Linked DNA regions of Homo sapiens: region 2 is linked to region 1. Evidence: fine-mapped expression QTL. Tissue or cell type: whole blood. Region 1 holds a variant in brackets; the other region holds the start of a gene. All regions are shown on one strand. Distances are from middle to middle.

Region 1 (8,187 bases):
GAAAAGCAGAGCCAGTAAGGCTGGTCAGCCACAGCCACCCAGGTAATTAATCACCTGAAATCATTCCCAAGGTTAACTTCTGACTCTTCCAAAAATTAATTCACTTCACTTTTCATTTTTTTTTTACTCTAAACATGTGAATATTTCAAGGTTACCATGCCTAAATAAGGTAGCACTTAGAAATTTATAAAAAAATGAGTAACATATTAAAAATCTTCACATTGTTTTGACTATGATAACCCTTCAAATTATTATTATTATTAGAGATAGGGTGTCTCTGTTACCTAGGCTGGAGTGCAGTGGTGTGATCACAGCTTACTGTAATGTTGAACTCCTGGGCTCAAGCGATCCTCCCACTTTAGCCTCCCAAGTAGCTAGGACTATGGCTGTGTGCCACCATGCCCAGCTAATTCAATAATTTTTAAATCAATTAGATAAAAGATTAAAACTGTCTCTTCTTATTTTAAAAATTATAAGTATTTTCCCCTTTCTTCTTGATAATGTAAATATTTGTGAGAATAAGTTTATCTGTCCCTTCTGGAAGCTAACTTTAGTAGCCATATTCTTAGGATGTTCACACAGGGATGAAATCACCCAACAACCCATTTCTCAGAATGACCCCCCATTGCTAAGTGACACATGACTCTGTTTGGCCCATGAACAAGAAATATTTTTTTCCAACACATTAATACTTCATTGGATAAACTAGATGATGCCCCAAAGATCCTGTCCCTTCATATCTCAGAATTCAGCAGATGTAGGCAGCCCAGCCTTAATCATGTTCAAATCCGAAATCACAGGCAATACCTGTTAATCATGTACTCATATTGTTTAAAATCTCTACTGCTTAAGAATTTATATGAATAACATCTGGGCCTTACATCTATTTCTCAATATCACACTGCAAGCAAAGAGAAGAAAAATTTCTAAAATTGTATTTTTAAATGAAAATTCATGAGCTTAATGCTGGCAAATATCACGTTTTCAAATTTTTCTAAGCATCAAAACTGCTATTTATATTCATATTCTATTTTTACTAATTGTATCTACATGCTCACTGGGTAAGGTAAATTAATCAGTCTAAATGAAATTATTTAGACTGATTTTTACTAGTCAGTAGTAAAAACATTTTTTTTTGCATTTTTGTTAACTGACTAGTATTTCATGCTTGTTTCATTCGATATTTCACAAGTGCTTATTTGCTACAAGAACACAGTTGTGCTCACTTAACTTCGAAGCAGTTATAAGGAATCATCACATTTACATGTGGGTGTTAATCCAGTACAGATTTGGGAAACTGGTGGCATTTTAAGTATGAGTTAAAGTTTTCAACATATCCTTATTGGATTTATATACCAAACATTTAGTCTGAAAACTCTTGTGCAATGAGGACAGTTGAAATGTCAAAACATAATATCCTAAAGAGGAAAACAATGGAATTTAATGGGCACTTTCCCCAACAAACCTACTTCTTTGCATTTGAGGACCCCTTGCTATGGCCTATTGATGAGAAGTTGTGCAGAAATTAAGGCACCAACTGGATGAATCAACTACGAAAATTTACACTGGCCATCTAGCTTGTTACTGGAAAGAATTAAACTAGATCTCACAGTCTATTAACAAATACTAAATAATCTTGATAATAATAATGATACTTATGCAGAAAAATACATGCTTCTTTACACTGGTCTTTAGATGACTGCAGATGGCATTAGACACATTTTTGCTTCATACACATTTCTTTTCTTGTACATACCCAGGACGGGCCCCCAGCATGTGAAACGGAGTGGCCATAATGAATTAGTTTTATTCCCCAATGATACAACTAGGGCTCCCTTCTCTTTCATTGCTTATGACTGCCTTCCCTTTTCTCCCTCACTGAATATTGGTCTTTTGTTGCCCGACCCTGACCCCAACCAGGATTTTTGACAGTAGAAGGGATATAATGAGGATCCTGTTGAAGAAAGGAAGGTGAAAAAATCCCAAGATAGATTCTTTCTCTACTTACTCTCTCACCAGCAAGCTGAATTATCAATTCTCCTATCAAACTTTCACCTCTCAATGTTCCCATCCTTTCCTTCACAGGCCTCTAATGAATATTTTTGCAAAGAATCTCTGAGATAGTGTTCTTTTGCATAAAGCAGAGGAAAAATCCCTAATGTTGAGTTAAACCTCAGGGAAATAGATTGCAAGTCATTGCAAACCAGAGAAACCAACTTACACAGTGGCAGATTTAAAAAGAAAGGGAACTACTAGAAAGGCTGGAGAATCAGACATGGGCAAGGTAAGGATAAAAGGAGGCTGGACACAATGATTACAGCTAAAACCACACCACCAAACACCATGTGGATGCAGATACTGTTATCCTTCTTGCTGGCTACGGGGTGCAACATGTGGCACCCAGGCCCATTCCACAATGAACAGTGTACTCTGTTGTACCACTACCCATGCAGCCAATGTTAATTTATGCTGCCAGAATGAATTCTTGCTCCAAACCAAGAAACTGAAAGGGTCACATGCTCATCCCTTATTTCTAGGGGCCAGAGAAATAGTGTGTCTGGACAGTGGCAATTTTGCAGTAGGAAACATACCCTTATCTCTCCAGTTTTCATGAGGTAGAGAAGTTTCCATAGTGAGGAGTTTCAAAGCCCTAAACGTCAAAATAAACTAAATGTCCAGTATAGTGTGACATTTTCGAGATGATTTGAAATTGTTTATGTTAGTTTTTAGACTTTTTTTTAAAGTTTTTTTTAATGTTTAAAGCACAGTTCTTCAAACTGTGAGGTATAATCTATAAAACAGTCATAAAATTGACTTAGTAAGCCATGATAACAAACATTTTTTAATAGAATGGAATAGAGTGTGCATATCACATAGTAGGATGAGTTTTGCCCTGTAAAACTTTTCTTTCACTTATGTCTATGTAGAGGTACATATTTATTTAATTATGGTGTCAAATGCTTTTATTGCTGCAGATCATGTAAAAAAAAATAGTTGAAAACCACTGCTCCAAAGGACTGTATACTTGATTCAGGAACTGGAGACTAGAGAAGAACTGTAGTTTCACAGGGCAGTGGCCTGGGAGAGGAGACAACCCATAGCCAGAAGAACAGGCCAGGATAGTAGAACTAGAAATATGTGGACCAATCTCCTGGCCCTGTAAGAAATGCAATTAGAAGCTGATGCAGAACCAAGAGCCCCTGGGGACTCCTTTTTTCTCTTCCTATTGTCCTTTACCCAAACCCCAGATGGATGGAACTCTTTGTCCATATCCCAGTAATTATTCCCAGTGACTGAAGAGAGTGTGTTGGAAGAGATTACAGCCGTGAGACGTAATTTGTCATCTCAAGTAAGAATCTGCTATGAATTTTCCTCTGAGAGAGCTTAGAGTACAATGTTGGAGTCAGTGTTATTATTGCCATATTTAGGCACACTGTGAGTTAGGTAGGCTACCTGTATAATAATGTTCAATTTCTAAACAACTGACTCATAATAATTTGGCAACTTCCTCTAATAGTTCTAAGTGGAAGTGGGGGTTGGTAAAAGCCATGTGGACAATAGAGGAAGTATCTTTTAGTATAAACATATGAACAGGCAGTAGAAGCCATGTGGAAATTGCTTTGTCATCTTTCTCATAGCGCAAAAATTCTTTTCAGATAGCTTATAACATTTAATTTGGCATTTGCACAAATTATAGTAATATAAGATATTTTTGATGTTGCCGTACTTTGTCATTACTCATTTTCAGGTCTCCCTAAACTGAGTTATAATTAATTTGAAGTTTTTGAAAGGAAGTCTCTCAAATATTTTTTGTGGGGGTAGATCTCATGATATTATCATTTTGATCTTCCTGTGTACCATGCCAGGGCATTTCTTCTTGCCAGGGGAGAATGCATTGAATTGTATAATTTATCCAATGATTAAACATTGTTGGCTGGGTGTGGTGGCTCACACCTGTAATCTCAGCACTTTGAGAGGCCAGGGCGGGTGGATTGCTTGACCTCAGGAGTTTGAGACCAGTCTGGGCAACATGGTAAAACCCTGTCTCTTCTAAAAATACAAAAATTAGCCGGGTGTGGTGGCGGGTGCCTATAATCCCAGCTTCTTGGGAGGCTGAGGCATGAGAATTGCTTGAACCCAGGAGGTTGAGACTGCAGTGAGCCAAGA[T/C]TGCACCACTGCACTTCAGCCTAGGTGACAGAGCAAAACTCTGTCTCAAAAACAAAACAAAACAAAACAAAAACACTGTTTTATAATTCAGACTGGCTTGGTGTGGTTAACAGGACATGGAGCTAGAAGAAAATCATCCCCCAAAATATAGATATATATTTTTCTCACAGAGAACTATACTGTGAACTGCTAAGGAATGTGATTTATTTACTCCCTTGTACCCAAGCTGAATATAAAGCTTAACACATAACTGACATTCAACAAGCCATTCTTGAATTGATAGTCACATTTCTCTCTAACATTTACTGAGCACTTACTGTGAGCCTGTTACTGTTCTATGGTCTTACTGTACATCCTTTACTAATTTAATCTTCACAAAAACCCTGTGAGCTGGATCTTACTGCTGTATAAATTTTGCAGTTGAGGAAATGAGAAAGGTTAAATCATTGCTCAAAGTACACAGCTCATGAGAGGCCAAGCTGGGATCTTAACCTATAGAGTCTTGACTCGAGAGTCCACATCTTTGATTACTGAGTAAGACTGCCTGTTGTGACGGTTAAGTGTTAGTGGAAGGAAAGAGGACCACAAGGAATATTGCCAGAGGTTTTATAGGAATGACCAAAATGAGAATAAAGGTAAAATTATAAAATTTCCTAACAGTGTGCCATTTACTTTGCTCCGCCTGCCTTTAGTGAAAGCCTCCAGGGCTGTAGATTAGAATCTGTTTTAGTGGGATGGACCAGAATATCTCTGAATAATAGGGGCTTACATAAGTTAGAAGTTTATTTCATTATTGTGTAAAATAAGTCTGGAGGTAGAAAGTTCATTCCATGTTTTCATAAGAACACAATTTCTGTCTTTCTGCTCTATCAGACTAGGGCAAGTTTTCCGTCTTCGAGTCACCTCATGACCCAGGATAGTCTGTGAAACTCCAGCCATTATATCTGAGGGTGTGGGCCAAAAGACAGACAAAAGGCAGAATAGTGATGAAAAAAAAAAAAAAAAGATTTATCTCCTTTCTCTCTGCAAGTCAGCTACTTCTAAGTGACATTGACAGAAATCACACATAACACTTCCGTTGACATTTCTTTGGCCAGTGCTTAGTCACATGATTGCACTCAGCTTTAAGGGAGCCTGTGAAATGCAGTCTTTCTATTCACGCATCAATGAGCTCAGCTAAAAATCAGAATTCTGTTCCTAAAAAGGAAAGGGTAAATGGATATTCAGGTGGGCAACTAGAAGTTTCTGCCACACTGCCTGAATGATATGTCAACTATTCCATGAAATCTTTCTTTTAACTTCTAATGTGATATGATCTCTCCTTTCTTTGAATTCTACAGAATATTTTGTGTGCTTCTAATTGCAGTTTTTATTACCTACAATTACCTGTAAATACTCTTGCCTTATCCTTACAGTTGATGCTAAGATCTATGAAGCCAGTTACTATCACAGTTCTTGCATTCCATGCATTAAAAAGAATAGTCTTACACTGAGTAGATGCTCAATAAAAGTGAAATGGAATCTTTTTTTAGGTACCATTTAGGGAAAGAAAGGAATGATCATAAATGAAGTTCCTATGAAGACATAACATGTAGATTATTTCCAACATATCAGTTAGACTGTAGAGTTTTCAGCAAATTAGAATTATTTGAGCTCCTACTTTGTCATAAGTACAGTACTAAGTAATAGAGATAATTTTAGTACATCATACAGGCATGTTTGAATAACATAGAAAATGGGAATGATTAGCTATAATAATTATCATTATTATTTCCTTCAGAAAGTTTCTATGCAGAGTTTAACAAGTATATAGATACAGATGAACTACATGAGCAAATCCCCAGTATTATCTGAAATAGAAAAACCAAAATGTAAACAAGAGAGCATACCACAAGAATAATGGAGAAGCTTTTCTCAGAAACTGATTTTAAAAAAACCTAGAAATATTGGATTCCTTGATAATTATGAAGAAGACACCATATCTTATTTAGTAGCACATCTGATTATTGGGAGATGCATTCAGAAAGATCTTTAACCAATGGTGTTTCAAAGGAGCCAGGAAAGACAGAATGTTGATAGAAGGCAATATGGCTGAAGCTAGGAGCTCCAGGCAAAAGTGGTATTAAGAGACCTGGCACAGAAACAGAAAAGTATGGGCATGGTTGGTGAATATCAGGGCTTTTGCTGTAATCTAGAAGGGATCTAAAGTGGACATGTGGTGGGAGAGATGAAACCGAGATAAAGGATGTGTCCCCAAATTCCTAGGTTGAAGCTTAGTCTCCAGTGTGATGATATTTGGAGGTGAGGTCTTTGGCAAATAATTAAGTAATTGGGGTGGAGCCCTCACAAATGGGACTAGTGCCTTTATAAGAAGAAACATCAACATTGGTCCAGTCATTTCTGCAAAATGGAGCAAATTAATCATAATATTCACCTCATTCTCAAAACCTCTTCTCAAATGTAGCTCATCTTAGACTCCTGCCAAATTGAACCACTCATTGCTTTCTATAAGCTCTGTGCTATCCTCCTCCCACACTTTGGATGGTATGCCATCCCACCACCTGAACAAAAGTCTCCCTCTTATTCAAAACCTAGTTAAAAATATCCCTCTGTCTCGAAGCATCCCCTGACACTCCTAAATCCCAATAGTACTTGCTTCAGCACTGGCTATAGTACAGTGTAATCATTAAAGCATGGCATCTAACTGGAATCTTGCCCTGGTACAGACTGTGTGATCTGAAGTGAACTATTAATTTCTCTAAAAATGGAAAGAATACTACTGACCTCCCAGGGCTGAGCTAAGGATTACACAAGATAGGGCACTCAAAGTACCAGTACCTATAATACAATACGATGACTACAGTTAATACAATGTATTGTATATTTGAAAATCACTAAGAGAAGAGATTTTATGTGTTCTCATCACAAAGAAATAAGTATGTGTGGTAACGCATATGTTTGCTTGACTTAGTCATTCCACAATGTATACATATTTCAAAACATCATCTTATATGCCATAAATAAGTTCAATTTTTACTTATCAATTTTAATAAATACATTAATAAAAAGTACCAGTACCAAGAAATGGTCACTGTGTTAAATATTTATATCTTTGAATCTCCCATAGTTTTATGATAAATGTCTTATTAGTGACGAATACCTATTAGGTGGCCAACTCTGCCTGGCACCACTGTTGGTCCTAAAGATACAGCTGTGAATAACAAGGGCAATTCTTTGCTTGTATACATTACTTTTCAGTGTTAAGACAATAAAGTACATAAATACTTTTTAAAAAAATAAAATTTGGATTGGTTTTATGTAGAATATTAAAATTAAGTCATGTTAAAGAGGGATTGGGTAGCTACTTTCTATGGGTGGTTATGGAAGTTTCTCCTAAGATGGGACATTCTAGCTCTGACCACAATCTTTTCACCACTACCCAACAAAACAGGACATAATAGTATAACTTTTCTTACAAAAGAAATTATTATAATATATGGTTCTTTATGTCTGTTTTCTCTCACTAAGCATGTTTTCAAGGTTCATAATGTTGCAACATGTAGAAGTATTTCATTTCTTTTTATTGTGGAGTAATATGCCATTATATCGATATTACCACATTTTATTAGTTGATGGACATTTAAGTTGTTTCCACTTTTGGGTTATTATAGATGCTGCTGCTATGAACAATCACTTAGAAATGTTTGTGTGGACATGTTTTTATTTTTCTTGGGTATATACCTAGGAGTAGAATTGCTAGATCATGTGGTAACTCTATGTTTAACGTTTTGAAGAAGCTCTAGGCTTTTCCTAACTGTTTTTCAAATTTTATATTCCCACCATCAGTGTATGAGGGCTCCACTTTCTCCAAATCCTCCCTAAAAATTTTTATTTTTGGTTTCTTTGACTATAGTCATTCTAGGAGGTGTGAAGTGGTATCTCATGGATTTCAATTTGCATTTCCCTGATAAATACCAGCATTAAACAAAAGGATGTTTGTATATATTCTTTGAAGAAATG
Region 2 (8,187 bases), 170 kb before region 1:
AAGAACAAGGAGCAGCACCAAGACAAATGAACAAACAAGAGCTCAAGTTTGTGACTTGTTTTCCAGACTGCTCAATTCTCATTAAACATGCAAGCAGTAGTGCTGTGTTCGGCTGTAAGTGACGCTCTGCATATGCCTGGCTAGCTCCTCCACACGCATTTGTGGAGGAGCTAGCCAGGCATATGCGGAGACTTGCCATGTAACCTGCAGCAAGTTACTCACCTCCACCTCCCTATGTTCTTCTGCACTTCCTCAAAGTGAAAGTTCATTTATTAGGTAAGGAACAAGAATTGAATCCAAGTTTGCATTCACTGTGCCAGGCATTTAAAGCTGCCACTCACATGTTGTGGAATGAACTGTATGGTCTCTTACAGCCATAAAACATCCAAGTCTCTAGGATTATGCTGTTAGGTTCCAAAGAATATAGTGTACAGTAGTCATGAGAAATATCATGACTTTCTGAGATTATACACACATATGCATATATATGTATGTGTGTATATATATCTCTCTCTTCTCATATAGACATAAATCGGTATCAGAAGGTATATACGATACACAGTGTGTGCATATTTATGTATCTATCCCCTTCCTTTATCTACCTCTAAGCTAGGAGAGGCATCAGGCTGAAGAAGTCAAAGTATAACTACTAAAATGAGATAATATAGAAGAGAAAATATTTTTAAAGAATTAAAAATATAAAGCTATATAAATGCAAAAATATAACTAATGCTTAAGAATTATTAGACTAGTTGGCGGAAAAATTTCTTCTGAAGAGGGAGTAGAGTAATGCTATTGTTATTTTAAACCTCACCAAAAAAAAGTGAACTATACATAATCTCCTATACCAAGCAAAACACTGCAAAAGCTACAGGTGACCAGAATTATATAACGCCTTTTGAGAATGTACAAGCGTTTTCAGGTACATACATTTCATTAATTTCTAGAATGTTTTTAAGAGTTGCCAGACCAAGGCCCTGAAATTTTCAAATATAAAAATCCTATCTTGGAAGGCGGGGACTCTTACAGAGCTGGGGCCTAGTTTAGAATAGCATTATCTTAGATAAGAGCCCAGCCTCCCTCCAAGCCGTAACAGGAAATGCTTCATAAAGAAGTCTGCATCCTTAGTCCCAGACCTCCGCAGTTAGTATTTGGATTCTAGCCTTTATAAATGGACTTCTCAAAGGTGCATCCAACATCTGAGTATTCTGGCAGCAGTAACGTAAAAGGACTGACAAGGAAGGCTGCAGAGAGGTGTCAGACACGAAAACGCTTGAAGACATAAAAATGAGGAGTCTTAAGCACCTAAGAACTGCAATTCCCTATCTGAGCAGCAGGTAAGATTCTGGGGTATCAGATCACTGTATCCAGTTCCAGGTTCTCCACTGGCAGAGAGTGCAGTCTCTGACTTTGTCCTCTGAATGCAGGAACTTTATCGAAGCTAAAGTACCTGCTTTGGACACTTCTGGCACAGGTGTTGGGGTGACAGGAAACATCATCAATTCAGCTGCCAACTACAGCGGAAAAAAACTAGGGAATAATCCTCAGAAAATGGCACTGTTAATGGGTACAAAAAACACAGATAATAGGAATAAGCTCTAGTGTTCAGTAGCACAATAGCGTGACTATAGTTAACAATAATTTATTGTATATTTCAAAATAACTACAAAAATGAATTTGGAACAAAGAAATAAATGATAAATGTTTCAGGTAATGGATATTCCAATTACCCTGATTTGATCACTACACTGTATGCTTGAATCAAAATATCACGTCTCCTATAAATATGTACAACTATTATGTGCCCATAAAAACTAAAAACAAAAAAGAAAGAAAATGACACTTAAATATTAAAATACCTTTTATCCCCGAATCCCACATTTCAGTTTGGTCTTCTGAAAAAATGACTTATCAGTTTCTCAGCTAAAGAAATGATATCGACAGTGTACTACCTAAATTATACCTTATATTCTTTCCTTTCCAAAATATAAATTCGCCAGTGAACAATCTGATCCTAAAGAGGGCGGAAGATTAACCCGCCTAGCATGAGAGCACAGCTTAAAATAAATGCTGTTAAGTAGTCCTCAGGTAGAACAACTTTCCCAGCCAGCAGGCCCAGGAACTCAAGGTCTAGCTTAAGTTGGGTATTTGTATTCAAGAAGGAATTACAATCATGGAGTCAAATGACTTTTTCAATGCAGACGACAAAACGTAATCAAGTCAGTAGACACTTTACTAAGAGGAGGCTAAGCAAATGGTTATTTGCTTAAGGTTAGGGAACTCTTAAGCCCAAGGACCTGAGAGCCTGGGAAGGCGGGGGGGAATGGGTTTGACTCCCAAAGTTTGCGTTTCCGCAAGTGGTTAACACAACTCTAGGAACAAACCCTAAGACCAATACTCCCCACAATCTCATTTCCCCCCATTCTGCATCACCCATCACCCCAAAATAAAAACAGCTACTACAGCACAGCCCTTTGGTTACGCAGGAGGCTGGGACCTGATCCTGGCATAAAAAGCGGATGCGGGCGACCGAGGACCACACACGTGGGGGCGTTCGCGGGCGCTGAAACCAGCTACGAGGCCCACGCCCCCGCCGGGGACAGCTGGTGACCATCACCTTTGGACAGGGGCATTCCCCAGCCGGCCCCGGAACTTGCGAAAGACGCGCAGCCCTTCGGACTCAGCCACTCGCGCAGGGCCCGGGTCCCGGGCGGCTCGGGGCACCTGAGGAGCGCGGCGAAGGCGGGGACAGGGACGGGGACGGGGACGACTCGGGAACAGGGAAGCGCGCGGCCTCCCGCAGGACCCACCTGGATCTGCAACGGCACGAGGCGCACCTTGCAGCGCTCGCTCACCGCGAAGCCCTTGGGCAAGTCCACGTACTGGCCCCACTCCTCGGCGAACAGCTGCACCACGAATTTGCGGTGCATGTCGATCTGGTCGCCGTACAGGCTGAGGAACTTCTGGATGAGCAGCTCGTAGCCCGCCCCGTGTGGCACCGACGAGGGTCGCGCGAAGACTGAGAAACAGAAGAGCACCGGGACTGTGCCCGACGGCGCCCCCGCGCCCCCGGCGCCGCTGTTGGGGAGCGCAAGGACCGCCGGCTCCGCAGCCGCCATGTTCCCCCGAGCGTCTGCGAGCTCCGAGGCCGCCCAGTCGCACCCAGCCGGCTGCCGCGGCCCCGCCTCCCGGCGATGCCAGCCCGCCCGCCAGCTCGCGGAGGCGAAGGGGCGTGTCCTGACGACCGCTGCTCGCGCGCTCTCTTACCCGCCCCGGAGGGCGGGCCGCGGCGTAAGGGTGGGTGGTGGGGCCGGGGTGCGCGCGTGAGCCAGGGAGCGCCTGCGCTCGCCGGCCGGGTCCGCCCCCTCCAGCTTCCCGGGCCGCTGCGTTCCCGCAGTTCCCCGCTCGCGCCCTTTCTGCCGCGGTTCTGACTGCCGGCAGAACGCCTAGTGGTCTCGCAGACCCAAGACCCGCCTGGGCTGCCCGTTGTTCTTGCCCCGGTGCTGCAGCTCACACAAGGGTTTGTACCACCCTTCCCCTAACGCTGGCCCTCTTCGCGGCTTCGCTCGCCTTCGAATGAGCAGTGTTCTTGGCAGTCTAGGGTTGTGGTTGGGTACACAGAGCCGCCAGGACGAGTTACCTGTTGGCTCTGTGCAGAAGCATGCAGTCCTCCTCGAGATGGCAGTGGTATCTTACAACCAAAGGGACAGTCCGATAGATACCCTAAGAAGAGCAGCAGAATTTAATCCTTAGAGGGCCAGTCAAGGTTCAAGTTTTGTCTTTTTTCGGTCCCACAGAACACAATATCTCTAGGAATGGATTTGATATCTGGCCTCCCTTCATCTCAACCTATTTCTGGGAGGACTTGGATTTGGGAATATAAATACTATTAAAAGCAAAAATCTGAACTTTATATTGAAACTAAGGATATCTGTTTTTAAGTAAGTAAAAGGGATCACTTTCAAATAAAACAATCCTCTGCCTTCTGCACACTGTAAGGCGCTATAATTAACTGGAATTAGAAAGCATGCATTATGAACAGAATTTCCTTGGAATTGAGTCCTGCGAAGATAGGCATGGGCCTAAACATAAAATTAGATTTTAGGTATTAAAGCTGTCCTCTTCTAAGAAAATAACCTTTAAAGCAGGGTTTCCCAACTGACACTGTTGACTTCTGGAATGGACATTTCTCTTTCTTGGGGATGGGGCATCTTGTGCATTTGCAGGATATTTAGCAGCATCACCGGCTTCTACTCCCGCTAGATGCCTAGTGACCGCTCCTCCCTCTAGTTATGGCAATCAAAAATGTTTCCAGACATTGCCAAATATTCCCCAGAGGGCAAATATACCCCCTACTTGAGAACCACACTGCTTTAAAGTTATGAAAAGACCATCCTTTGGTGTTTCTTGCTCAATTGTACCGAAGCTACTAGAAATAGCCATTTTTTTCTGGTTCTCATCACACTTTGAGAGATCCCATTTAAAAGTGTTGTCTGAACCCGTCAGACCCAAAATGATATTTTTTTCCGGATACCACTCCATTGCAAGGTCTTCTATATGCAGATATGCTGATTTGTGCTAATAAGTGTACCCCCTCAAGACCTGATTACCAAAAGGTACCTACCTATTTTGGGTGGACTAATAAAAGTGTTCCTTCCACCCTGTAAAGCCTCCTAACACAGAGTAGGTTGGAGATTAGAGATTGGCCTAGACTTCAGACATCCTCAGCGAGGACCTTGGCATCTACACAGTCTTCTGCCGTGGCCCTCATGGCCGTGAGTCAACATACTTCATTTCCCTTTCATGTTTTTAAATTAGGTTTCTGACCCTTCAGTAAGGAAATCAACTTCCATATATATTGTGCTGTCTGAGATTGGTCCTTGACAACCTAGTTTAATGGTGCAATCATTGTGGTAATAGCATGTTAAATAACATTAATAAAATAGATATTTGATGGGCACATTTACCATTTATTGAATATCAACTGTGTATCAACCTCTGCATCACTGGGCTGCAAAAGGGAGGTGAATGCACATTTCAGTGATAAATTATTATCCTCAGAAATACAATTATTAAGATAATTTTTATAAATGTTACCAGAAAAAGTGAGTAAGACCCCATAAATGAATATTCAAATGACAAGTAGAAAATAACTGTTCTAATTGACAAGATCATATTATGGACCAAATGCCCAAAATTTTCTCATATAGGACTCTCAGTAGCTTTATTAGTTAATGTTAAATGCTTACTTTTAGAATCTAAATTCCAAGAAAATCAAGAAGGTATATTACACAGTATTGATTAATACATTAATATGCTACAGAAACAAACCCCAAAATCTCAATAGACTGATAAAACAAAGGCTTATTTCTCACCTTTCCCAGTTAACAGCAACATTTGACAAACCAATTACTCCCTTTATTTTGAACCATATTCACTTTGTCTTTGGGATACCACTCTCTCTTATTTCTCCTTCCACCTCACTTCAAGCTCGTTTCCTATGTTCCTCTCATTCCCCAAACCTCTATAAATACAAGTATACCAGAGCTCAGTCCTCACATCTATTATCCTAAGACTGTGGCTTTAAATATCACCCATATACCTTTGACTTCCAAATTTTTAACATCCAGGCCCTCACTCTGCACTCCATACTCATACACAAGTGCCTATTCGACATCTCCACTTGGATATTCAATAGATACCTCACATTTAAATGTACTAACAGAACTCTTAGTTTTCTTCTGTCCTCGAATATTTTCTCTCCCCTGTTGATATCTAGGCAAATGGCAACCCCGTTTTAGTAACTGAGTACAATAACCAGGGGTTTATCCTTTAATTTACTCCTCTTTCTGTCCTTGTCCAGTCTATCAGCAAGACCTGGTGGTCAGAACCAAATTCCTCTCATTCACACCAGTGCCACCACCTAAGACAAAACCACTGTCGTCTTCCATCTAACTGTAACTCATCATAAGTTGTGCCCAATATTTGACTTTTGTATCCCTATTTATCCATTTACCTCATTTACATAGACTTTTATACTCCATTTACCACACGGCTATTAGAGTGGCACTTTTTCAAAAACATAAATTTAGAGCGTGTCACTGCTGTGTTCAGAATCCTCCAGTATATAAAAATAGACCTCAAGACAATCTAGATGTTAGGATTAAGAGAAAAAGAACTTTAAAGAAGTTGTTACAAGTATATTCAAGGTCTTAAAAGAAAGGGTAGCCATAAGACTGAGCAGATAGGGAATACCAGCAGGGAGATGGAGATGACTGAAAACATAGCCAAATGTCACTTTTCAAGCTAAAAGTGCAATGTCTGGAGTGAAATGCTCACTGGGTAATCTAAACTTCAGATTATAGGTTCCAGAAGAAATGATTAGTGAAATTGCATGCAGAGTACTAGAAATTATCCAATGTGAAGAACAGGAAGAGATTGAAAAAAGTATGATGACAGTTTTAGTAACCTGGAGGGCAATATCAAATGATCTAATATGTAGTTGGAGTCCAAGAGGGAGAGATGAGACAAGAATGGAACAGAAAGAATATTGGAAGAAATAATAGCCAAAATAGCACTGTCTATTAAGTCTTCAGTGTGCTGATTTTTATCTCAGAGTCTGCTTTCCAGGGAAATCAACCTGTGACATTTGTTGCTAGGAAAGATGAAAGGAGGCCAATGTGGATGGATTTTGGAGCTGGGTCACCCACTGTTGGGCAGATAATGAATACCTAACCACTAATATCTGTGGAGCACAGATAGCCCCTGGCAGTTTTTTTAAACTTCCAGCAAGATGAACTAGAATCATATACTACTGGAAAGGAATGCCTTCACTGTAATTAAGAATTTGAAAAATATGGAGGAAATACTAATTATAAGAATAAAGGAATTGAATGACAGTTTCAAAGTTTGATTGATGCTCTAGAAAAAGACCAAAAAAAAGATAGTTGGCAACTAAAAGCTAAGTGTGAAGGCTGGAAGAACTTTTTGGCAGCATTGAGTCTCTCAGTTCCTGCAATAAGAAGAGAGAGAAAGCTGAGGACCAAGACTAGGACTGAAGGTAGCAGAGCTCCAAAGAAGGTTAAACTCTTAAAAAATGCATATTTTCTATGCCAAGGTCAGGACTCTGGTTGAGAAATGGGACCGTGACACATGGGATAAAGTTGATGACACTGAAAATTATGAGTCCTTCGATTCTTTTAATTGATCTGGTCTTTAGAAATGACTTACTCTTTTCTTAATGACTAGCATTCCCTCATTTCTTGAAGGCAATGCAAAGCCTTTTCTCTAGCAAGACATTAGCTTTCCCAGGCTCTTCCCTCTCCTTCCCTCCTGATACCTATATCCATAAGTAGGCTTAATTAACAGTAAAATCTGGCCACAGATATGTTGGGCCTGAAAAAGAAGGAATATATCCAAGAGCAGCTACAGAATCTAATAACCAGCATATACCATCAGGAGCAGAGAGATTATGCACAGCACTGGATTTGGAGGGTGTGTGATCGAGGATGTGGAACAAAAAAGTTTCTCGGTTAGGAAACACCATATTAGGATAGAGGATTTAACACCCTAGTAAGGTTCTTGGGAGATGGTCTGAACACAGTGCTTCTAAGGCTGCTCTTAAATGGGCCATAAATTTACAACCTTACCCCAAGGCTATGTTAACTGTCCTGCCGTCTATTACAATATACTCTGAAGAGATATAAGTTAGCTGGACATCCTGCAGAATATCACCTTCATTCACTGTATCAATAACATCATGCAGATTGAACAAGATGAACAAAAAGTGACTATTCATTGAAGGCCTTGGTAAGACACAAGTGTTCCAGAGGGGAGTGATAACCTCTAAATAGTTTCAAGGAACCACCACATTAGCAATGTTTTAGGGCCCAGTGTCCTAAGGCATTCTAAGACATCCCCTCCAAAGTACAGGACAAATTATTGCTTTTTACACTTGCACTTTCTACCATGAATACGGAAACACAATGTTTAGGAGACCTCTTTCGACAATGGAGGCACCATTGTGCCACAACTGAGAATAATGCTATGCTACACCTCATTCTCTGTAAGATGAAATGCTGCAAGGTTTTAGTGGGGCTGAGAGTAGTAGAAAGGATTTTGCAGTAGATCCAGGTAGTGGTGCAAGCAGCCGTGCCTCCTGGGCTGCATAATATGAAAGATCTTTTA

The links. PIP is the estimated chance that this variant, and not a neighbour inherited with it, causes the effect.
Region 2: ISOC1 starts here. The variant in region 1 is fine-mapped to the expression of ISOC1 in whole blood (TOPMed, PIP above 0.99).

Annotation. Positions count from the first base shown.
Region 1 is chr5:128,923,179-128,931,365 of GRCh38, reverse strand. The region is part of intron 6 of LOC105379168 (a long non-coding RNA gene); the gene reads right to left. Among named protein-coding and RNA genes, the nearest start is that of SLC27A6, 38 kb to the left of the region's middle. RefSeq lists a silencer at 5,153-5,353. The variant T/C (reference allele first, on the strand shown) is at 4,168.
Region 2 is chr5:129,089,699-129,097,885 of GRCh38, reverse strand. It overlaps ISOC1 (isochorismatase domain containing 1), which reads right to left and starts at 3,137. Exons shown (of 5, transcript NM_016048.2): 1 at 2,811-3,137. The coding sequence starts at 3,119. It overlaps MIR4633 (microRNA 4633), which reads right to left and starts at 198; the gene lies at 120-198. LOC124901060 (a long non-coding RNA gene) reads left to right here and starts at 1,107. Exons shown (of 2, transcript XR_007058926.1): 1 at 1,107-1,337; 2 at 2,487-4,960. RefSeq lists a silencer at 2,740-3,519.